7 linked regions of the Homo sapiens genome follow. The protein of the gene in region 1 purifies or fractionates together with the protein of each later gene. This does not show direct contact. Each region holds a gene or a part of one and is shown in the gene's direction. Other genes may lie near its edges.

Region 1 (3,500 bases):
AGACTTAAAAATAGTTTCTTATACTGTAATAGGAACTGGGCTAAGGTATTTTTGTTTTGTTCCTGAGATAATTTCCTGCAAGGATTTACCATTTCCTGTTTAAATCTCTAGATAGTTTCTTGTATTGTATTATTTTGCACACAATTAAATTACATTCTTTTTTTGTTTTTTGTGTTTTGTTTTGTTTTGTTTTGTTTTTTGAGACAGAGTCTCACTCTGTTGCCCAGGCCGGAGTGCAGTGGTGCGATCTCGGCTCACTACAAGCTCTGCCTCCTGGGTTCACGCCGTTCTCCTGCCTCAGCCTCCCAAGTAGCTGGGACTACAGGTGCCCGCCACCACACCTGGCTAATTTTTTGTATTTTTAGTAGAGATGGGGTTTCACCGTCTTAGCCAGGATGGTCTCGATCTCCTGACTTCGTGATCCACCCACCTCGGCCTCCCAAAGTGCTGGAATTACATGCATGAGCCACCGTGCCTGGCCTAAATTGCATTCTTATAATTAGATCATGTTTACTCAACACACATTCTCTTGGTGGTTGACAGGAAGTTTCAACAAAATAAGATAAAAATACTGCATTTGGAGAGTAAGTCACCGCCTTTTTTTTTTAAGTTACAAATATCCCTGGTAATTACAATTTGACTCTTAAAAAAATGTGCATCTTAAGAAACTGTAACATTACAGTGCATTGTGTTAAGAACATGTCTGTTTTTGTTTGGGTATCATGTTACTCTGAAAAACACCTTAAAAAGATAATGTTTCCATCTTAAACATACACACACACACACACACACACACATACACACACACAAACACATTCCAGTGATAGCAGATTAAGTTTTAGAAAGAAATAATCTGAAGTAAGTCCTCCCTGACTATGGAAAACTAATGAGAAAACTTAAGATTACTCTGAATTAGTACCTTTGTTTCCTAGATTTTGGTTTATATTTCTCAATCCAATACCAAAACCAAAGCATGAAATAAGAGGAGTGACTGCAGTAGTGCATTTTCAGTAAGTTAGAATCCAGATAGTGTTATATATGATTAACAGTGAATACACATGGGTTTTTACAGATATTTTAAACATAAACTTTGCAGATTCTTTTAGTAATTTAACAAGACTCCTATCTTTTGTCCTATTCACTTTTATAACCATTATAAATATAAACTACTTCACTAATTCCTAACCATTTTATTCCAAAGAGCAACAAGGCCAAACTTCTGACCACTGGTGAAAGGAATGGTATGCTTTTTTTGGTTACTATGAATTAGGCATATTTTCTAAACTGATTTTGAATTCTGTAGAAATAACTTCTCTCTCCACCTTCCTGTTCACAAATCTACATATACCCTCTTAAAGTGTCAAGGTATTGAGTTCTAAACTGTGGCCAAGAATAATGAAAGTAGCTCTAGAGAGGCTTGTGACTTTTCAAATAGAATGGAAATTTGTACACATGGTGTACGTGTGAAAGGCAACTTCATTTATGGATTTTATTGAAACTAATACATTGATGTATGTAAGATAGCGTTTTGACCTAATGTGTGTACTTGCTGCTGGAACTGTAAATGAAAATAAGGAAGTGTGAGCGCTGATGAAACAAAAATGATTTTTGTGATATGAAAGCAAAGGCAAACTCCCCAAAGAACTATTCTTTAAGTAACTGTTTTACATCTCCTTTGACTTACCTCTCTGAAACCCTGTGGTTAATACAGTTCAGCAAAATAAGAAGTTTCATATCCTCTGTTGATTACTGGAGTTGGTTGCCTCTCATGAGCAATTAAAGCACCCAAGACACAGAATTTAGGGTGTGTATAATCATAATGTTAAAATGTGAAGGCTCTTCCAAGTACTGCAATTAAAATAAAAAGTTTCAGTGATTTGTAAAACAAGATTCCTGAACACAGTGAGGATCATTTAGATAGTTTTCATATGGTCAGACATCATTACTTAAACATTTTGCCCTCCAAAAACTGTGATTCCTTACTAACTTTAAAAACCTATTTAATTTTAGATTTTTCTAAAAGCTCTAAAGATGAAACCATCAGTCACAAAATTCAGATACTCTTAGGTATTGTTGTAATATATTGTCATTCTTTTGAAACCATATTCAGTAAAACAGAAGGAAAAGATATATAGGTAGATTCATAATTTAAAAAGAATCTTGAAAAATAGTAAGAGAGTAATCTAATGGGGACAAATCAGATATATAAATTGCAAGTTTAAGAGAATGTATGAAAGCATAAAATTGGTGTGGGATTGCCACTTTTTTACTGGTATTTCTTCAGAAGCCCCACACATGGGCTGCATTTTTCAAATTAACATTTTGTATTTTTTTTTTTTAATAAAGAATGGAGCAATTTTGGGCCCAGTGCAGTGGCTCATGCCTGTGATCCCAACACTTTGGGAGGCCAAGGTGCGTGGATTACCTGAGGTCAGGAGTTTGAGACGAGCCTGGCCAACATGGCGAAACCCCGCCTCTACTAAAAATACGAAAAAGAGCCAGATGTGGTGGCACACACCTGTAGTCCCCGCTACTTGGCAGGCTGAGGCAGGAGAATCACTTGAACCCAGGGAGGGAGAGGTTGCAGTGAGCCGAGCTCATGCTACTGCACTCCAGCCTGGATGACACAGTGATACTCCGTCTCAAAAAAAAAAAAAAAAAAAAAAAAGAAGAGTGGAGCAAATAAGATAGTAAGCATGAAGAGGGGATTTGGGGACTTCAAAGTCATTTAAAAATTTGGCTACAAAATGTAAAATAAAAGCTTCTTATTTATACAGTTCTAAGAAAATTATTAATATACAACTTAATATCTTAATAACCTGTTTAAATTAATGACAGTTTTATATAATATTTTAAATTATTATCTAAGACATAGCTCAAATACATTTTTATAAAATACTTAGAGTTAGGTAAAAATTCTTATTTTACAGTTACTTTAATTTGACTAGTAATAACCAAGTGTTGTTTTTACTTTGGTGGGATGATTATACTTAATTTTCTTACTTTTAATATGGGAAAAAAACAAACATTACAGAAAGTGTATCCTCAGTTTCAATATCAAACTATGACGAGAATTTCTTAAGAATCCTTCCAAAAAACCTATAGATAGACAGATAGATAGAGAAGCATATTTTAAAATTATGTTTTATATGCACAAACCTAAATATGTTTTTATTGTAGTAGCTCTACAACTCGAATCATATGTACTCTTTTGCACTTTATTTTTTAAATTAACATGACATTTTCTCAACAACACATAAATACAGCTTGTTTTTTTTAATAGGAAAGTATATTCCATTATATACTTTTCTATAATGTATTTAACCAATCTTGTTTGATGGACATTTGTAGTACTTCTCATTTGTTCTTGTTGTATATAATTTTATTTTGTTATTAAAAATATTTTAAATTATAGGAAAAATGAGAGGTAGGGAAAGGAAAGTAAATATACAATTCTGGTTAGCTGATTTTATAAACTAATAGTATATTTTAAAATATAA
Region 2 (3,500 bases), on another chromosome or scaffold:
TGGATGAGCTCAGACCCTTGCTCGGATCTCAGCTGGAGTCCCAGCTCTGCCTCCTGCTAGCTCTGTGATTTCTGGCCAGTGTTGTAACCACTCTGTTGTTTAGTTTCCTCCTAGACAAAATGAGAAAAATAATTCCTATCTCACAGTCTCTTCCTCCCGGTGCCTCTAGAGCTGTGCTGTCCGGCACAGCGGCCCCTAGCCACAGGTAGCTGCTACAAATTAAAATGAAATAGAATGTAAAATCCAGCTCCTCCATTGCCCTAGCACCTAGCCGCTTTCTAAGTGCTTGGTTGCCACATTGCAGCTAGTGGCCACCATACGGGACCGCACAGATAGAGAACATTCCCATTATCGCAGAAGGTTCTATTGCGCAGCACTGAGCTAGGGATTTGGACAGCCTAGAAGGCCGTGCCTTCTGAGCTCAGCTTCCTGGATCTGAATCACAGCATCCACTACACATGCCCACTGCATTTTTCCTGGCAGGGGAGAGGGTTGGAGACCTCAGTATCCCCTGAGCCCACCCTCTCTAGAGGCCGTGGGGAGCCGGGCACAGCTTTGGAGTCCTCTGGGCAGCAGGGGCTGGAGGGCTGCACCTCCGTTCACCACCCCTCCTCTTTAGCCTTCCTCTAGCAAGGTCTCAGGCTTCCAGGCCCCACGTGGGGTGAGGAGGGAGGAAGAATGGCTTTGCTTTATGAGTACTGAGCCCCCATCCTGCCAATCTGAGCATTAGAAACTCTCATTAAGAACTGTTGTATTTAAATTAGAGCTAATCTCAAGCACAATGCAGGGAGAGGGTGCTGGGAGGAGCCACGGGAGAAAGCTACAATTTTTTCTGCCATTGTCACTCTCTCCCAGGCCCAGATTGCTGAGCAGCCCTGGCAAATGCCTGGGATTTACTGCAACCAGAGGATATAATTTGCACCACGTGCAGGGAGTTAAAATACCCCTCCGGCATCCCCTTCACTGAGGGTCTGTCACAGCCGCTTTGTTCCTTCCCAAATCCCCAGATCTGTAGCCCTGGGATGGGAAGGGGAGGGGGGCCAGCCCTTGCATGAGCAAATCCCCTGTTGGCAAAACACTTAAGCACTGCTCTCTACCTGAGGGCTGGGATCCAAGACCCCACATGACAGCAATAATGACAGCTAATGGATAGTGCTTAGCAGGTGCCAGGCACTTTTCTTAGCACTTTACAAATATTAACTCATTCAACCCTGACAACAACCACTGGGGTTGGATGTTATTATGACTGTCTCCATTTAGTGATAGGAATACTGAAACCAGAGAGGTTAAATGACTTGCCCAAGGTCACACAGCCAACGTATGGCAGAATCAGGATTTGAACCCAAGGAAGTCTAACCTTGAGTGTTTTTGGAGGGGAAGGGACCAGGCACCTTCCAGATAGGCAAAACAGGGTACTCACACATGCAAGAAAGCCCAGAGGGACTGGGAAACTCTCTAGTTATCACCCTGAGGCCAGAAGTGAGTTGGGAGAACCGGTTCTTTATAGCCCTGTGGGATAGTGAGGTGCCTTTATCCACAGACCCTGTCTCAGATGCAGCCAAAGTTCAGAGCACCACGGACCATCAGGGCTGAAAAGGCCAACCTCTCCATTTTCATAGGAAATTGAGGCCCAGAAAGAAGCCACCCCTACCCCCAGGTCACAGTCTAGTTACTGGGTGAGCTGGGCTGGGACCCAGGTGTCCTGACTCCCGCCCTGCGTTCTCCCATGCTCCATTGTTCTCTTGGGAGACCTCATGGCAAGCCCAGGCCCCACCACGGAGACCCCTCTGTGAAGGACTGCCCCTTACCCTTTGTCCCTTCCCCAGGACAGAGTCTGTGGCTGAAAAGATGCTGACCAATTGGTTCGCCTTCCTCCTGCACAAGTTCCTAAAGGTGAGAAAGGGAGTGAGACGGGGCCTAGCGTCCAGGGCAGGATGGCACTGCTGCTTAGATCCTGGCCACAGGGCTGCATGGGGACCCCCTCCCTCGGGAGCAGGAACCTGGACTGGCTGTGCTAAAGCCCTTCCTTCCACTGGCCTCGCTCCGAGAGAGGAAAGGGAAAACGTACAAACCTGAGGAGGCCGTGCCCACACCTCCTGCCCTGTCTGTGCCCACAGGAGTGCGCAGGGGAGCCACTCTTCATGCTATACTGTGCCATCAAGCAGCAGATGGAGAAGGGCCCCATTGATGCCATCACGGGCGAGGCCCGCTACTCCCTGAGCGAGGACAAGCTCATCCGGCAGCAGATCGAGTACAAGACCCTGGTGAGGAAGCCGGAAGCTCCGGGCCCGCCTGTGTATCTTCTACTTCTGCCCCTTGCTCTGCCTTCTGTCCATAAAAGCAGTCTAGGGGGTCAATAAAGAGGATGGGAGGCTGGTCTGGGGTGAGCCCAAAGGACAACTAAGTGTACCAAGAGCAAGGTGGCAGGCCCGCCCACCCATCCCAAGCACTCTATGCCTCGGTTTATCCTAGATAATATTGGGGGAGAAAAAAGTTCACCCATCATTAGTTATTGGGTAATTGGTATTATGAGAAAGATGTATGTTGGTTCCTAACATAGAGGCTTTGGGGAAGTGCATGACTAGTCTCTGATACATGTAGAGCCATCTCTAAACACTGAGGGTGCCTCATTCCAGGACTATAGTCTCCCCTAAGCTGTCCAGGAGCTAGAAAGTAGAGTCCTGGTGCTTTGAGAAAGAAGAATTGGACACAATGACTCAGACTCTCATTTGGCAGATGTTATGAAGGTGAGGGAAACTGAGTCACAGACCAGAAAAGTACCCTTATTTCCCCTATAAGGAGGGTGAACTTTGGAAAAAGAAGATTCTGAGGTCCTGACCCTCTCCCTCAAACTACTCCTTCAACTCCTGTCCTGCTCACCCTCTGTCCCCTACTTGTAGATCCTGAACTGCGTCAACCCTGACAACGAGAACAGTCCAGAGATCCCAGTGAAGGTGTTAAACTGTGACACCATCACACAGGTCAAGGAGAAGATTCTTGATGCCGTGTATAAGAATGTGCCCTATTCCCAGCGGCCGAGGGCAGTGGACATGGACTTGGGTAGGAAACCTGGACTCAGAGTGTGAGGGCAGGGGTTGAGAGGTGAAGGAAGGGAAGCTGCCATGCACACAACCCTTGCAGGGGCATGACTGTGTCCTGGCCAGCTGAGGCCCGTGTGAAATGCTTCCCGCTTTGAGCGCTGCCTGTTCAGATGTGGCTGTCTCTGGGGAGGTCTACGTGTTTCCTCTGCTGCCTGGGCCCATGGAGCCCTAGATGTCTCTAGCCTCTGTTATTGGTACCAGCTTGAGGGGGCCGGGTTGCCAGGTCCCTAGAGAAGGTGCAATCGGGAGACACTGGCTCACAGCCCTCATCCCTCTCACGCCGCTCCCTGCACCACCCCCTCCACCCAGAGTGGCGCCAAGGCCGGATCGCCCGGGTCGTGCTGCAAGATGAGGACATCACCACCAAGATTGAGGGTGACTGGAAGCGGCTCAACACAC
Region 3 (3,500 bases), about 79 Mb from region 1:
TTTTTTTTTTTTTTTGAGCCAGAGTTTCGCTCTCATTGCCCAGGCTAGAGTGCAATGGTGCGATCTCAGCTCACCGCAATCTCTACCTCCCAGGTTCAAGCAATTCTCCTGCCTCAGCCTCCCAAGTAGCTGGGATTACAGGTGCCTGCCACCATGCCCGGCTAATTTTGTATTTTTGTAGAGATGGGGTTTCTCCATATTGATCAGGCTGGTCTCGAACTCCCGACCTCAGGTGATCTGCCCACCTAGGCCTCCCAAAGTGCTGGGATTATAGGCATGAGCCACCACACCTGGCCAGCTACCGTTTCTTTAATGACAATACCAAGTGCTGATGAGGACACGGAGCTAATGGATCTCTCATACTTTATTGGTAGGAATGCAAAATGGTGCAACCACTCAGGAAAACAGTTTCTCAAGAAGCTAAACGTCCTCTTACCATATGATCCAAATAGAAATGAAACTTATGTCTACACCAAAACTAGTACATATGTTTATAGCAGCTCCGTTCATAACTGCCAAAAGCTAGAAGCAATCCCAATGTTCTGCATTGGGTGATGGATAAACAAAGTGGTACGTCTGTGCGGTGAAGTATGACTCAGCCGTAGAAAGGAATGAACCACTGCCCTTTCAGGACGTTCAGAGAGGAAACAAAAGGCATGAACCATTGATACACATGGAAACTTGGATTGATCTCCAAGACATTATTCTGAGAAAAAGTCAGTCTCAAGGTTATATAATGTATAATTACATTGAGATTACATTCTCAAAAAGCCAAAGCCATATTGTTGCAGGACAGATGAGTGGTTGCCAGGGGCTGAGGTGGGGAGTTTTGGGAGTGGTGGGACCGTCCTGTATTCTGATTGTGGTGGAGCTGAATCTCCACGTGTTAAAACTCACAAGAGTTAATTTTACTGTATGGTAATTTTAAAAATGAATTTCAGCCAGCAAAAGTCATCCTTTCCTTACAAAGATTTGCTTCATTTGCACTCTTGCTGGTGTCGCATCCAGGTTGCAGCACTCGGAGCGGGCGAGGCAGGGGGCTGAGGAGCGGAGCCACAAGCTGCAGCAGGAGCTGGGCGGGAGGATCGGCGCCCTGCAGCTGCAGCTCTCCCAGCTGCACGAGCAATGGTAGGGGCCCTGCAGGGAGCCTGGGCTGGGGTGTGGCTCAGGAGGGACTGGGAAGAACTGGGGACAGGTGGTATCCTGCTTCAGCACGAACGGGAGGAGGGGGGGCGGGGGGGCAGGTGGTATCCTGCTTCACCACTCACCCCTGCAGGGTTCGTATGTTATCCCTAGGGAGCTCCCTCCCCACAGGGCTCCTCACGTGGTCCAGCTCGCCTCCAGAAGATCTGGCCACTCTCAAACCATGGTACCAGGTCACAGCCTGTATCACCCTTAACCACCCTTTCTAAAAAGAAACAGCTTTGTCAGTGTTGAACAGAAAGTCACCTTTCACCTAGCCTTTGCTGATGCAAGCTTCATATAATTTTGTGCACAGTTCATCTACAGATTTTTTATTTTTTAAGTCTCACTCTGTCATCCAGGCTGGAGTGCAGTGGTGCAGTCTCAGCTCACTGCAACCCCCACCTCCTGGGCTCAAGCGATTCTTGTGCCTCAGCCTCCTGAGTAGCTGGGACTACAGGTGTACATCAACACACCCGGCTAATTTTTGTGTTTGTGTTTTGTTTTGTTTTTTTTTTGAGACCGAGTCTCACTCTCTTGCCCAGGCTGGAGTGCGGTGGCGCGATCTCGGCTCACTGCAACCTCTGCCTCCCGGGTTCACGCCATTCTCCTGCCTCAGCCTCCCGAGCAGCTGGGACTACAGGCATCAGCCACCACACCTGGCTAATTTTTTGTATTTTTAGTAGAGACGGGGTTTCACTGTGTTAACCCAGGATGGTCTCGATCTCCTCACCTCGTGATCCTCCCATCTCGGCCTCCCAAAGTGCTGGGATTACAGGCGTGAGCCACTGCGCCCAGCCTAATTTTTGTATTTTTATTAGAGACAGGGTTTTGCCATGTTGGCCAGGCTGGTCTCAATCTTCTGGCCTCAAGTGATCCACCCGTCTCGGCCTCCCAGAATGCTAGGATTACAAGTGTGAACCACCGTGCCTGGCCTATAGATTTTTTGAGATAATATATATGCCAAGTTAAAAGCCTGATGTTGAGAGAAGAGAGAAGAGACATCTTTATTCCCACAAAGAGAGAGCAGACTCCAGGCGGTCCAGCAGTGCCCCCAGGGCCACTCAGCTGGTAAAGGGCAGAGTCAGCTTCAGGCTGAGGCTCCCTCCTGGCCTTCTCCCTCCAGGATCCTTCATTGTCAGTCTGGCTGTAGGTTGTAGAAAGCAGAATGAGGCCGGGCGCGGTGGCTCACGCCCATAATCCCAGCACTTTTGGGAGGCCGAGGCAGGGAGATCACGAGGTCAGGAGTTCAAGACCAGCCTGGCCAACATGGTGAAACGTCATCTCTACTAAAAATACAAAAAATTAGCTGGGCGTGGTGGCGTGTGCCTGTAATCCCAGCTACTAGGGAGGCTGAGGCAGGAGACTAGCTTGAACCCAGGAGGCAGAGGTTGCAGTGAGCCAAGATTGTGCCACTGCACTCCAGCCTGGGCGACAGAGCGAGACTCCGTCTCAAAAAAAAACAAAAAGCAGAATGAATTGGCCAGTGAGGTGGCTCATGCCTGTAATCTCTGCACCTTGGGAAGCTGTGGCGGGAGGATCACTTGAGCCCAGGAGGTCGAGGCTGCAGTGAGCTGAGGTTGCGCCACTGCACTCCAGCTGGGGTGACAGAGCTAGACCCTGTCTCAAAAAAAGAAAAGAACGAATTTTGAGCTTCCTTTCCTCAGGTCTCCATGTCGGGAGGGTTCTGCTTATGTGGTCTAAGTGTTCTAGAGCTCTCTTCCTTCTCCCCTGCGTAAGTGTCAAGTGTGTGCCTGCAGGCTTTTCTCTCCCTGGTTCCTGCTCTTTCTTGTGGAAGGGCAGGTGACCCTGGAGGAGAGGGAAGCGTTGCCGAAGGCTTTAGATGCTCAAGAGGCAATTCAGAGACTTCCCTGTTTCCTGGGCGGTGAATTGGGTTGTGAATCTTCCGTGAAAGTCTCCCACTGAGACTAACTCAAGTTCATTTTGGGAAAACAGCTCAAGCCTGGAGAAAGAATTGAAATCAGAAAAAGAGCAAAGACAGGCTCTTCAGCGCGAATTACAGCACGAGAAAGACACTTCCTCTCTACTCAGGATGGAGCTGCAACAAGTGGAAGGACTGAAAAAGGTGAGGTGGGCCATCCCGGGAGAGGAGAGCCTCTGGCAGCCTCCAGAAACCCCTAACATGCTCCGGGCAGGCTCCTCTCCCCGCACCCTTTGTGTGGGGGCCAGGCGGCTCCAGGGTGTGGGGAGGCTGTTAGGGAGCTCCTGTTTTAGGAGCATAAGACAAAGACAAATCATAAACCACTAAGCCTGCTGGCAGCTCAGATAGAGGCAAGTGCCATGAAGAGAATAAAGCA
Region 4 (3,500 bases), on another chromosome or scaffold:
TTTAATTAACAGTGTGTGGTGGCATGCAACTGTAGTCCCAGCTACTCAGGAGGCTGAGGTGGTAGCATCATTCGAGCCCAGGAGTTCGAAGCTGCAGTGAGCTGATCATACCATCAGCTGTTGCACTCCAGCCTGGGCAACAGAGCAAGACTCTGTCTCTAAAGAAAAGGAAAAAAATGTCCTTGCCTATTAGGTTTTATTAACTAATTAAAGGATGATAGTTCTGTAGATGAGAAGAGTAGCCCTTTGCCACTGCAGGGAATTAATCATCTGTTGCTCACGTCAACTCTGTTGCCCTCCTAGGACAAGCAGTGCATGAGCAGCAGCTCAGAGAATGAAAACCCTCCTTTCATTTTCATCAGGGGCTGCATGGTTATCCCTCTCAGTGCAATATAGCTAAAGGGGCTTGAAATGCTGGGAGTAGTCTTAAACAGCCCATTCTTGAAAGGTTTTCATTAACTCACTCTAAACATCTAAATTAAAAATGTTTTTGTTTTCACTATAGTAAACAGGAGTGTAACATTGCAGGTTTGGTACATTTCTGAATGCCTCTCCACACACTGAAGCACAAGAGCCACTGAAAAAAGCTATATGATAAATATTTTAAAAATTATTTATCTGTGTTGCATTACATGAGGCCTTATCTCCCAGACACTTAATAAAAGAGCTAATGAGAAGAAGAGCTAAATTCTAAGATTTTGATGTTTGGTCATTAAACATTACAGACACCAGTGATCAGAGAAAAAAACAGAAGAAATAATGAGAAAGTGACATAAAAAATTTTAAATGCAGCAAGATATATCAGAATCACGATATCTGGCCTTTTATTTATCTATCGGCTCACTACTACTACTACGCACACAATTTATCACTTAAAAGAAAAATACATAATGTTGTTAGAATTTATCAGCAGTAATGCTCCAAGCTCTATCTTTCTACAAAAATTTCATATCAGTAGGTTTGCTTGAGGATTCTAGATTTGGTAAGATTGCAGTTTGCACAGAGAAAAAGATATCAATATCAATAGGAAAATATTCTTTTAGAATTTCTCCATGGAGCTGACAACATCTTAGAATGTATCGTCCTAGACAGAGACTATTGGAAGAAAAAACTTTCCTTATTTCTAAAATTTAAATTCAAAGTATCTTCTGGTGGGGACGAAGAGAGAGAGAGGAGAAAGGTTGCTTGCTGTGACTGGCAGGATTTTTTGAGCAGTCTGCTGCTTTCACTCCACTAAAGAAACAAAACTTTCAGAAGTTTCATTTCCCTTCTATAAACCACAAATCCAAAACAAAAGAAAGTGGAATAAGATAGTCTTTAAAGCTAATCTTGGTTTTGCTAATTTGTAAGCTTTCACCAGCAGTTCTTGTTTTGCTCTGTTTTGATTTTGAGTGAATCTCATATTCCTGGCTCTGGTGGAGAATTTTCGTGCTTTTAAAGATTAATTAATTTAGTCCTTTTTGCAATGGTTTGTTCTTTTCGGCATCTAGGAATTAAAGAAAGTGCTCAACCATAAATAAATGTAGTTATGTCCAAAGTACCTTCACATAGACACACTATACACAGGCGTGGGCCTTTTGGAAACACCTGAAGGCCAAATGTCTGACTGTGAGTGGAAGATCCAGAGTGTGCTGATAGAGGAAGCTTTTCTCATCCCTCGAGAGCAAAGAGGGTGATGGAGGCAAGAGTCAGAGAGCCCTGTTCTCTTCTTCATGTACACTGCAAAGGGCAACTTCTCTAGAAGCATTAAAAGTGTCAATTAGGTTTTCAAGTAAGCGTCATTTATTCATATATACATTCATTTGTCTTTTTATTTACAAAATTAAATCATTTTCCCATGAACATTAAAATGGGAAGAGAGAACAAAGAAAATAGAGTTGAATAATAATAACATTGATTCTGGACCAGACACTGGGCTGGACAATAACTCGAGGGTTACCTTATTTATTTACACAAAGACCCGATGAGGTACACACTAATTATTTTCATCTCCCTATTACCAATCATGAGACTGAAGCTGAGAAGGGTTAAAAACTTGCCTAAGCTCACACAACTAAGAAGTGTCCGAGCTGGGCTTTGAACCCAAGGTTTGATCAAGGGTTGTGCCCTTAACTGCCATACCATCCTGCCTCACAGATCTGGGTTAGGGATTCTGCTCAGTCACTTAGTAGATGTGAATCCTTTGGGAAGGTACTTACACACTTTGAGCTTCAGTCTCTGCATCTATAAAACCATGGACACATGCATGAGTACTTGTAGCATTTCCTTTGGTCTTGGTTTCAAGTAGCTTCTGGTCCCTTTTTGGGAAATGCAGGACCTCATGACAGCACATCATTGTGTTTCTCCTCTGTCCCCCAACTCACTAGATCTGGCACCACTCTTTCTACAATGAGCTTCGTGTTGCCCCTGAAGAGCATCCCACCCTGCTCACGGAGGCACCCCTGAACCCCAAGGCCAACCGGGAGAAAATGACTCAAGTAAGTATGCTACCCCAGCACACAACACTGTGGGGTCTGGGGAAACTTCTGTTAGAAGGAGGCTATGCAGCACAGCAGAGAGAAGGCCGGAGCTAGGAGTCCACCAACAGACTAACAGCCTTCAGTGAACTCAGGGATCCCAAAGGACAGGAACAGCTTGAAAGTACTTGCATCCTTCCTGCAGGGACCAGCCCTTTGCCTCCAAAAGCAATAGGAAATTTAAAAGATTTCACTGAGAAGGGGCCACGTTTAAGTTATAATGTCTAAGGAGAAGTCACTTCAAAATGCAGCATCACATACAATAGGAATTTGGGTTCCAGAGTCAGACATATCTAGGTTTGAAAACTGGATCTGCCACTTATCAGTTATGTGACCTTAAAGAACTCCGTTAATTTCTCAGAGCCTCAGTTTCCTTGTCTATAAGTTGGGAGTAATATTAATACTATCATTTTTCCAAGGATTGATGTGAACATTAATGAGGTGAAATGACAGATGTGTATCATGGTTCCTAATAAACATCCAAAATATAGTACTTACTATTGTCATTATTATTACTTGTTTGAAGCTAAAGACCTCACAATAGAATCCCATCCAGCCCACCAGACAGAGCTCTGAGTTTTCTAGTTTGGAAGAGCTATTAAATAACAACGTCTAGTGTCAATTCTATACTTGTTATGGTCAAGTACTGGGCTCAGCATTTTACATTCATTGTCTCTTTAAGTTCTAGCAATGTGAAGCAGGAACTATGATTATATTGACTACATAAATGAAGAAATTGAGGCTCAGATACATTAAGTAATTCTCCCAGGGTCACACAGCTAGAACTGGCAAAGCCTGGGATTGATCCACGATCTTCCAGCATTGAAGAATCATAAATGTAAATAACTGCAAGGCCTTTTCCTCAGAAGAGCTCCTGGTGCTTGCACCAACCCACTAGCACTTGTTCTCTACAGGGGAACATCTGTGGGCCTGGGAATCACTGCACGTCGCAAGAGATGTTGCTTCTGATGAATTATTGTTCCT
Region 5 (3,500 bases), on another chromosome or scaffold:
TGGGTGGAATCAGCAGAGGCATCAGGGGAGGCAGAGGCCTGCGGGAGGTGGGATTGAGGGAGGCTGACAGCTGGTTCTCTAGGTGCTGGAGGGCGAGGCTGTGGGCATCAAGAGCTTCGGCTACTCCCTGTCAGGCAGCTTGGATATGGATGGGAACCAATACCCTGACCTGCTGGTGGGCTCCCTGGCTGACACCGCAGTGCTCTTCAGGTGAGCCCCTCTCAACCTTTTCCCTCCCTGAGGCCGTCAGCCCCTCCCTGTGACTCTGACCCCGACCTCAGTGCCAAATCTAATGCTGAAGAGTGTTTCCCAGCCTCATGTTCTCATGTTTCTTGTGCTCTTGACTCCCCAATCCCAGGGCCAGACCCATCCTCCATGTCTCCCATGAGGTCTCTATTGCTCCACGAAGCATCGACCTGGAGCAGCCCAACTGTGCTGGCGGCCACTCGGTCTGGTGAGGTGGGATCGGGTGGCACCTGGACCCTGGCAGCTTCCCCTGCCCTCCCTTTGATCCTTTATCTCCCCAGTTTGGGGCTGGGGCTGTGACAGGATGTGACAGATGGGGTGGGGGTAGGGGCCTTGGCCCATCAGCCTCGTTTGGCTCAGGAGCCACCTTTGCCCCCGCAGTGTGGACCTAAGGGTCTGTTTCAGCTACATTGCAGTCCCCAGCAGCTATAGCCCTACTGTGGGTGAGTGCGGTCCCCCCTCTGTGGCTCGCCCTTTTGGGTTTCCCAGGGAGGGGGGTCACTTCGAGGTGGTAGAAGAGCACCCTTGGAATGGGGTGAGCTGGAGCAGCTCTGCAGCTCAGCAGCTCCTCCTTTCCCAACATGCCACAGCCCTGGACTATGTGTTAGATGCGGACACAGACCGGAGGCTCCGGGGCCAGGTTCCCCGTGTGACGTTCCTGAGCCGTAACCTGGAAGAACCCAAGCACCAGGCCTCGGGCACCGTGTGGCTGAAGCACCAGCATGACCGAGTCTGTGGAGACGCCATGTTCCAGCTCCAGGTGGACACTGACCCCTTGGCTTCTGAGGGTCATTTTCATGGCTCCATCTCTTTTCCCTGATTCCTCTTAGCTGCTTTTTCCCGAGCACACTCGTGCCTCCTTCTAAGACCTAGACACGTGGGAAACCTGTCTTCTGAGCTCACTTCCTCCTCATCTGCTGCCCTCTCCTGTCATTTCTGCACTCCCTGGAGGAGGAGGAGGTGCAAGGGGCTTCATGTCCCCTCTTCCAGCTGAATGGAGGAGGTGGCAGCTTTTATCATCACATCTGGTCCTCAAAGCCCTAAAGGTTTCCCCTGTCCCCTACCCCAGTCTTTCTCCCTCCTCCTTGCTCAGTTCTCCACCTCTCTCATTCATCTCCCTAATATTCTTTCCAAGTTTTAGAATTGGTCCTAGGTCTGGCTGGGGCACTGAGCAGGGCTGAGGCCTGGGGATTGTTCCAGTGAGGAATAGACCTTCCTCTTCCTAGGAAAATGTCAAAGACAAGCTTCGGGCCATTGTAGTGACCTTGTCCTACAGTCTCCAGACCCCTCGGCTCCGGCGACAGGCTCCTGGCCAGGGGCTGCCTCCAGTGGCCCCCATCCTCAATGCCCACCAGCCCAGCACCCAGCGGGCAGAGGTGAGCATGGGTTCTGGTTTAGCCCAGGGGGAGGAGCTGGGAGGGCAAAGATCATGGTCCCTCCCCAGTGACACCAATTCACAGCTCACAGAGCCCTTTCACGTATGCTACTCCAGTAATTCCTCATATCTCTAGGTGCCTAAATGACCATGTTCCTAGTCAAGGGGACAGAGCTCCTCTACTCCATGTAGTCATTCAGGGGGCTCAGGTTGATGGGATTCTGTAATCTTCAAATGCGGCCTTCAAGCTCTTGAAGTCACATTCATCCCATTCAGCTGGAAGGGAGAACATGAGGCCCCTTGCTTGCATGGTTTTTATGGCTGGCCCAGAAGTGGTGCCCTTGACATCTTTTCCCGTTCTAAATCCGGAACTCAGTTACATGCATGTGAGCTGGGGCAGTGTGGCCCAGCTCTTGACTTGCTGCTAGTCTCTACCATGGCATGGTAGTGCTCCCATCACTACCATGATGAGAGGACCCAGAGGAGAGGACCCAGTTCAGGATCACATGGCTAATAAGCAGCAGATCTGAGAGTTGAGGACAGGTTGTTTAATCCTGTGATACTCTAACCCACCATATGCCATGGTGACAGGTTTGCCCCCTGCCTTGCCCCCTAGGAATGCCCCTTATCTCATGTCTCTCCCCAGATCCACTTCCTGAAGCAAGGCTGTGGTGAAGACAAGATCTGCCAGAGCAATCTGCAGCTGGTCCGCGCCCGCTTCTGTACCCGGGTCAGCGACACGGAATTCCAACCTCTGCCCATGTGAGGGGGGCAGAGAGCAGGGTGGGGGTGGGAGGGCAAGAGTTCAAGGATTGAGAGAAAGCCCTCTCAGGAGGACCAGTCAGAGGGAAGGGCTGAGCCTGCAGAAAAGGCAGAAGGTGGAAGAGGACCTGCCGATGGACTTGGAGACTGAGATGAGGGTCAGTGATGGGGCCACGGGGGCTCCCATGGCAAGGAATAGCAATCCTTCACAGTACACTAATAATATGCAGTCTACATACATCTCATTGGTTAGTCTTCAAACCTCTGTGAGGTAGGAATTATATTAGTCTCATTTTATAGATGGAGAACTGAAGCCTAGAGAGGTTAAGTTACTTGGCCAAGGTAAGTAATGGTGGAGCTGAGATGAGAACGGAGGTCCCCTGACTCCCAGTCGTGTGTACAGAGGCCTGAGGCTTGGACGGGTGTGATGGGGACCTGGGGTGGGAAGAGAGGCTCAGGGAGTGAAGGCAGGTACTGGGGGAGCAGACTGGGCGGGGGAATGGTAGGGGGAGGTGTTCAGAACTTAGCAGGAGTGGGGTCTGACTCTCCAGGGATGTGGATGGAACAACAGCCCTGTTTGCACTGAGTGGGCAGCCAGTCATTGGCCTGGAGCTGATGGTCACCAACCTGCCATCGGACCCAGCCCAGCCCCAGGCTGATGGGGATGATGCCCATGAAGCCCAGCTCCTGGTCATGCTTCCTGACTCACTGCACTACTCAGGGGTCCGGGCCCTGGACCCTGCGGTGAGGACCTGGGGGCAGGATGGGGTGGGGTCTTGAGGGGCTCCAGTAACCCAGACTGACCTTGCCTTCTCTCCCATTCCAGGAGAAGCCACTCTGCCTGTCCAATGAGAATGCCTCCCATGTTGAGTGTGAGCTGGGGAACCCCATGAAGAGAGGTGCCCAGGTTGGCACATCTGCCCTTATCCCTACGTGAGTAGCCTCTCCATAAGCCCGTAGACCACCCCTGACTCTAATCTCTTTCCACCCTTGGCCTAGGTCACCTTCTACCTCATCCTTAGCACCTCCGGGATCAGCATTGAGACCACGGAACTGGAGGTAGAGCTGCTGTTGGCCACGTAAGCCAGGCGGGGCCGGAAGGGTGAGGTGGGGGTAG
Region 6 (3,500 bases), on another chromosome or scaffold:
TAGAGAAATGTCTGTGGTTTTGTACCCAAGTGAATCTGGCTGCATTCCCTTTGGCTGTATAGATGTACCCCTTAGGAAACAAGGACAGCTTTTCACTGTTACAGTTCTGCCACCTTGTTCTAACTGTCATATGCAAGCTATCTCAATATAATATACCAATTTTTTGTGTATATAACATAAGCACACTATGTACTTTGCTCAAAATGTTCTGTTACTGAGTACATATAATCTGTATACACATCAGCCGTACATAGGAGCAAATTGTATATTTCTTCTGTAGTCATAGAGGGAGTAGATATTAGGATTGTTGTTTTCTGCTCCTGAAATTTTTGTTCTGAGTTTTAAAGACATTTAGCCATCTGTTTATGACTTTAAAGTGAGTGTTCAAAGTGGAGGCTCTGAATGTATGTATCATTACAGATATATTGAAAGGGTATTGTCAATAATAAATGGCTACTATACATCTTTTTCGGCTGTTTTCTAACTTTTTAAAATGTGTAATGTAAGCAGGTAGTATTTTTAAGGAAGTGGAAATATATCTAATGTTAACTATGGATTTTTACCTGGATTATGTCTTTTAGGAAGAGACTTTAGGGTGCAGAGTTGCTTCAATTGCATTTAAAATAATCAATTTTTCCTTAAAGCAGCTTTTACCTGTATCCTTAATTTATAGATGATATGTATTTATTTCATATTATATTATAAAATCATTTTAATAAAAATGAAATGTTGGATTCATCGTTGAACTTCTTTTTAGAAATATAAATTAAGTTGAAATTAGTAGCTTTCAAAGTTTTATCATATATATTTTTTCCAGCAGATATAGTAGATGCTTACAAATATTTTAATTCACCTAACTCTTCTCTAAGAGAATGAATTGTATCTTCTCCCACCCACAGGAGACTGACTGGTTCCAGAGATTTCTTTTCACAAGACTTCAGTTTTCTGGCTGCAGTATAAGAATTAAAAGGGCTTTAGAGTTGGAAACATATATGCATATTAAGTTATTTAGCAGTTTAAACATATATACTTTTATTCAATATGAACATGAGAGTAGCAGTTGGAACAAAGACTCCATTTGTCAATTTTCATTCCTTTTATTTGTAGTTGAAATCCTGTTGGGAGTATGAGTAAATTTAAATATAAATAAAATGCAACATTCAATGTATTTCTACTCAGGAAACCAGTTACAATGTTATTAAGTTACAATTGCATAAACTAACCTTATAGGCCTACAGCAAATGCTAATACATTTTGACCTTGGTTTGTACTTGAGGGTGTTTTTTGGTAATTGCTGTCACCCTGACAGCCAACAAGGGGGACTCGCAAAGGAAAAGCGTATGAGAGCGATTTGCAGGGGCTCAGACTGCACATTGCGCTGTGGTGTTTTGATGTGTTGCCTACCTGTTTTTATTACTACCCACCAGCTCGCTATCAAGTAGTCCTTGACCTGGCTATCATTGATAGGTACACTAGTCTTGAGTAATTGGTACTTTAACTTATCAACTACTTTTAACCACTGTGTAAAAATGAAAGCAAGAATAGTACGTTAATAATTGCCAGGCATTCCCTTCTGTACTGTACATACAAATAGAATTTTTACACATGTGCCTGTATGTATATATAGGTTGAGTATCCCTAAATCAGAATATGTGAAATCTCAAATGTTCCAAATTCTGAAACTTTTTGAATGTGAGGTGACATTCAAAGGAAATGTTCACGGGTACATTTCAGATTTCTGGTTTTCGAATGAGGGGTACTTAACTAGTTTAGTATATAATGCAAGTATTTTAAAATGAGAAAAAATCCAAAATCTAAAACATTTCTGGTCGCAAGCATTTCCGGATGCTCAATCTGTACAGTATGCCTAATTAATTCATCTTCTTATAAAATTAACTTCTATATATAATGAGTTAAAGTTAAGAAAAATATTATTTACTTGTACAATCCATTGCCTCTGTACTTATGAAAATTGTCCAGAAAATCAGTCTTTGCTGACTAAGCTTTTTTGCATATGGACATACTCGGGCATGTTGGCTTTATATATCTTATCTTTATATACCTCAGCTAAAAGCTAACACCCTTTATATTTAATTTGGTATGCTAAGCTTTTGGACCGGCAGGCTTGTGGCCCATTACCAGCGATGGTATTCTCCAAGGTGTAGGGGATAGCAGAGGGCAGGTCTTCCTTTTTTTTCCTGAGAGAGCACCGTAGACATGTTTGGAATAGTTCATCACCACTGTAAAGCTCACAAAGAAGAGACATGCTCAAAAAATCACAATTTATAAGCAATAATGTCTTACATAAAATAAAGGTGATTTTTTTTTCCCTTTCAGATTTTGGGGTAAGTGCGTTCCTAGCAACAGGGGGTGATGTTACCCGAAATAAAGTAAGAAAAACATTCGTTGGCACCCCATGTTGGATGGCTCCTGAAGTCATGGAACAGGTAAAAAAACAAAAAAAGTGACTTTTTGATGGACATAGTACAATCGTACAGATCATTAATATGCTAACATTTCATTTGTATCTAGCATTTTAGTAGAATGCATAATGTAACTAAGATTTAATTCTCAATTGCTAGCTAATTAGCAAACTAACGTGAAAGTTATACATCAACAGCTGTGGATTTCTGACATGACATGGACTTGATGATGTGTAACATGCCTGCTGTATGATTGTGTTTTTTTCCTGCTTTCTTTCTTAGGTGAGAGGCTATGACTTCAAGGCTGACATGTGGAGTTTTGGAATAACTGCCATTGAATTAGCAACAGGAGCAGCGCCTTATCACAAATATCCTCCCATGAAAGTAATTACAATTGGAAATACTACATCGGGGTTGAAATGTGATTGGACGGAATCTGTTTTCTAATTCTCTTCAACATCTTCATTCTTCTCTTAGACCCGAGGAGAATTAATGGAGGAACGCAGCCAAGTTGAACATTGTCTGATTTTCTCAGTGGACAGAATAGGACAAAAGTAGCATAATTCCCAGCTTTGAAGCTTGCTTTATAGTCTCAGCACAGAGTTAAGAAAATAATGTTATCAGATTGGTTGATGGAGGTTGATAGCTATGACAAATGCTGGTCATTACTCTTTTGATAGCAGAACAACGCCAGGTTCCCAGAGAATATCTCAAAATAGATTATAGTGATGTCATCTCTGCAAATGGGTTTCCCAGATTTTCAGAGCTTTTTTTTTTCTTTCTTTTTAAGTGGACTACAACATTTTTACCCCTGCTCTTATAGTGTAATGTTGGCAACTGATCTGATATAAGTGAGCCACAGTGTTTTTAGGATGCTATTTTCACGTTTCTGCTCTTCTTTTAACTGGTTTATACCTCATTATTTCTCTTAGTTCTGAGATAGTGGTATCAGGGCTTATTTACCCAACTGGATTTTGTTTTGAGGCTGAAATAGTTTAGTGAAATTATAATGCTATTTTACATAGAGTATGGTCTATGATTGTTTCATGGTTACTGGAAAAATTTGGGAGGATTTAT
Region 7 (2,173 bases), on another chromosome or scaffold:
GAGCATTACTTATTATATGAGGGAAGATAAATTTTATGAAATACAATTTAAATGTTCTTAGTGGTAATATAGTCACCCAAAAAATACTTTTCGTATTCTACACTGATGTGACAGTAATAATGGTTTTTCTTCAACTGACAGATGGGCTTTTTTAAACGGGTCCGGCCACCTCAAGAAGAACAAGAAAGGGAGCAGCTTCAACCTCATGAAAATGGTGAAGGAAACTCAGAAACTTAACTGCAGTTTTTAAGTTATGCTACATCTTGACCCACTAGAATTAGCAACTTTATTATAGATTTAAACTTTCTTCATGAGGAGTAAAAATCCAAGGCTTTACTGCTGATAGTGCTAATTGGCATTAACCACAAAATGAGAATTATATTTGTCAACCTTCTCCTTATAAATAAGTTCAGACATACATTTAATAACATAGGGTGACTTGTGTTTTTAGGTATTTAAATAATAAAATTTCAAGGGATAGTTTTTATTCAATGTATATAAGACAGGTAGTGCCTGATTTACTACTTTATATAAAATAGTACCTCCTTCAGTTACTGTTTCTGATTTAATGTACGGAACTTTATTTGTTGTTGTTGTTGTTGTTGTTGTTGTTGTTTTAAAGCAGTCCAAATTTGGACCTTAGCAATCATGTCTTTTGTATAGGTACTTAATGTTAATACATATTACACTACAGTTTACTTTTCAGAATACTAAAGACTTTATAACTGCATGAACTTGGATTTTTTTAATCACTCATATGGTAGAATTTTATAAACACATACATGATACCATCCAAATTCTTGCTTTTAATAACAAAGGTACAATATTTTGTTTTAGTATGAAAATCTGGTAGATCCTATTACACTTCTGTTTATATTAAATCCACAATATTTTATTACATTTTTAACTTGTATAAATTTTAGGTCAAATCCTTCAAGCCAACCTATACTAAAAATTAGTTCCATAATCACAAATGGCTCTTTTGTGTAATTGTTTAATTTCACCTGAATATCATAATGCTTAAAGCCATATGGAGTTGGAAATTATTTCCAAAGCATATTTATTCCATTGTTTTAGTCTGGCTATTTACAGTATAAAAAAAGCATTTTTATTAAAATACTGTGTAGTTCTTTGAGATAGTTGCTTATGCATATAGTAAGTATTACATTCTTAGAGTAGAGCAGAGTTTTTAGTTAGTATTAATTTATTTTCCTCCATTCATGTACTTTTCCTTATATTTCCAAAACTGTTACTGAGAATGGGTCAAGATCAGTGAGAAATCTTTACAGTTGACAGGAACCTGGACCCCTTACCCCAACTTTATGAGTAATGCTTGGAATAAAAACTCTTAAGGCAACTCACTGATTTACTTCTAGCAATAGCATGATGTTACAGGAATATTACCTCTGTTTAAGCAAGGTAATGTGTAAAATCAGTCTCGGCTGTCAGAATAACTTCTAAAAGGTATTTTTATAAGCAGTTCAAGTTACTGAAAACCTTTTAAACCTTTCTGAAGTTCGTTAGTATAAATTACTTTTCTAGGATTATTAATAAAAGCCACATAGGTGGCAAGTTGTAGTTTTATATGGCTCTGTAGAGTGGTGAACCTTCTAGAGGAATATATGATTTATTCACAGTTCCTCAAGGCCTGGGGATGATGATCAGTTATACCTATTTTTGTGCAATTACATCATGTTGTACATTAGAAATGGAGAGTTTAATAGCTCTTTAACTGCTGTCCTCATTAGGTAATGATAAATATTTCCCTTAAATAATTGACTATTTTGCTGTGTTTTAAAAATGATTGAAATTTATCTTGCCATATCTCATAATTTCATGCACAAGTTGACTGAGCTAATCTTGAGAATATATTCGTAAAATAGGAGCACATTTAGTTGAGGTATACAAGGTAGGACTCTAGACAAAACCTTCTATTTTAGCTTTAGTGAATTTCAAAAGTAATGGGTCTTGGAGTATAGATTTTTATTAGTAGCTTGAAAGAGCTTAATCATATGCAGTAAGTATTTTTATTACCAATAAATTTAAAATTTTTTAAGAAAAATATTTTTATCCTAGGGCCAAGTGTTGCCTGCCACCAATCAGTAAGTTAGTCTATAACAAATTTTACCCTAACAGTTTTACCACCTAGTAACAGTCATTTCTGAAAATATGT

The links.
Region 2: the proteins of ST8SIA4 (region 1) and PLXNA2 purify together in Homo sapiens (affinity purification with mass spectrometry; 2 studies listed by BioGRID and IntAct, with this or other methods). This does not show direct contact.
Region 3: the proteins of ST8SIA4 (region 1) and RUFY1 purify together in Homo sapiens (affinity purification with mass spectrometry; 2 studies listed by BioGRID and IntAct, with this or other methods). This does not show direct contact.
Region 4: the proteins of ST8SIA4 (region 1) and ACTA2 purify together in Homo sapiens (affinity purification with mass spectrometry; 2 studies listed by BioGRID and IntAct, with this or other methods). This does not show direct contact.
Region 5: the proteins of ST8SIA4 (region 1) and ITGA7 purify together in Homo sapiens (affinity purification with mass spectrometry; 2 studies listed by BioGRID and IntAct, with this or other methods). This does not show direct contact.
Region 6: the proteins of ST8SIA4 (region 1) and STK39 purify together in Homo sapiens (affinity purification with mass spectrometry; 2 studies listed by BioGRID and IntAct, with this or other methods). This does not show direct contact.
Region 7: the proteins of ST8SIA4 (region 1) and ITGAV purify together in Homo sapiens (affinity purification with mass spectrometry; 2 studies listed by BioGRID and IntAct, with this or other methods). This does not show direct contact.

What each region holds. Positions count from the first base shown.
Region 1 is NC_000005.10:100,851,283-100,854,782, reverse strand, and holds part of ST8SIA4 (CMP-N-acetylneuraminate-poly-alpha-2,8-sialyltransferase isoform a precursor), read left to right. Parts: intron 1-3,500. UniProt on the Homo sapiens protein: Catalyzes the transfer of a sialic acid from a CMP-linked sialic acid donor onto a terminal alpha-2,3-, alpha-2,6-, or alpha-2,8-linked sialic acid of an N-linked glycan protein acceptor through alpha-2,8-linkages.
Region 2 is NC_000001.11:208,038,385-208,041,884, reverse strand, and holds part of PLXNA2 (plexin-A2 precursor), read left to right. Parts: intron 1-1,826; coding exon 1,827-1,893; intron 1,894-2,117; coding exon 2,118-2,264; intron 2,265-2,900; coding exon 2,901-3,060; intron 3,061-3,410; coding exon 3,411-3,500. UniProt on the Homo sapiens protein: Coreceptor for SEMA3A and SEMA6A. Necessary for signaling by SEMA6A and class 3 semaphorins and subsequent remodeling of the cytoskeleton. Plays a role in axon guidance, invasive growth and cell migration.
Region 3 is NC_000005.10:179,595,554-179,599,053, forward strand, and holds part of RUFY1 (RUN and FYVE domain-containing protein 1), read left to right. Parts: intron 1-350; exon of another isoform or gene 351-1,008; coding exon 1,009-1,128; intron 1,129-1,268; exon of another isoform or gene 1,269-1,408; intron 1,409-2,699; exon of another isoform or gene 2,700-2,802; intron 2,803-3,138; coding exon 3,139-3,268; intron 3,269-3,500. UniProt on the Homo sapiens protein: Activating adapter involved in cargo sorting from early/recycling endosomes. Regulates retrieval of proteins from endosomes to the trans-Golgi network through interaction with the dynein-dynactin complex.
Region 4 is NC_000010.11:88,942,774-88,946,273, reverse strand, and holds part of ACTA2 (actin, aortic smooth muscle), read left to right. Parts: intron 1-2,366; coding exon 2,367-2,477; intron 2,478-3,500. UniProt on the Homo sapiens protein: Actins are highly conserved proteins that are involved in various types of cell motility and are ubiquitously expressed in all eukaryotic cells.
Region 5 is NC_000012.12:55,694,405-55,697,904, reverse strand, and holds part of ITGA7 (integrin alpha-7 isoform 2 precursor), read left to right. Parts: intron 1-82; coding exon 83-210; intron 211-358; coding exon 359-454; intron 455-627; coding exon 628-689; intron 690-836; coding exon 837-1,006; intron 1,007-1,472; coding exon 1,473-1,622; intron 1,623-2,267; coding exon 2,268-2,383; intron 2,384-2,934; coding exon 2,935-3,127; intron 3,128-3,209; coding exon 3,210-3,290; intron 3,291-3,382; coding exon 3,383-3,462; intron 3,463-3,500. UniProt on the Homo sapiens protein: Integrin alpha-7/beta-1 is the primary laminin receptor on skeletal myoblasts and adult myofibers.
Region 6 is NC_000002.12:168,139,596-168,143,095, reverse strand, and holds part of STK39 (STE20/SPS1-related proline-alanine-rich protein kinase), read left to right. Parts: intron 1-2,337; coding exon 2,338-2,447; intron 2,448-2,705; coding exon 2,706-2,807; intron 2,808-3,500. UniProt on the Homo sapiens protein: Effector serine/threonine-protein kinase component of the WNK-SPAK/OSR1 kinase cascade, which is involved in various processes, such as ion transport, response to hypertonic stress and blood pressure.
Region 7 is NC_000002.12:186,677,056-186,679,228, forward strand, and holds part of ITGAV (integrin alpha-V isoform 1 preproprotein), read left to right. Parts: intron 1-141; coding exon 142-237; 3' UTR 238-2,173.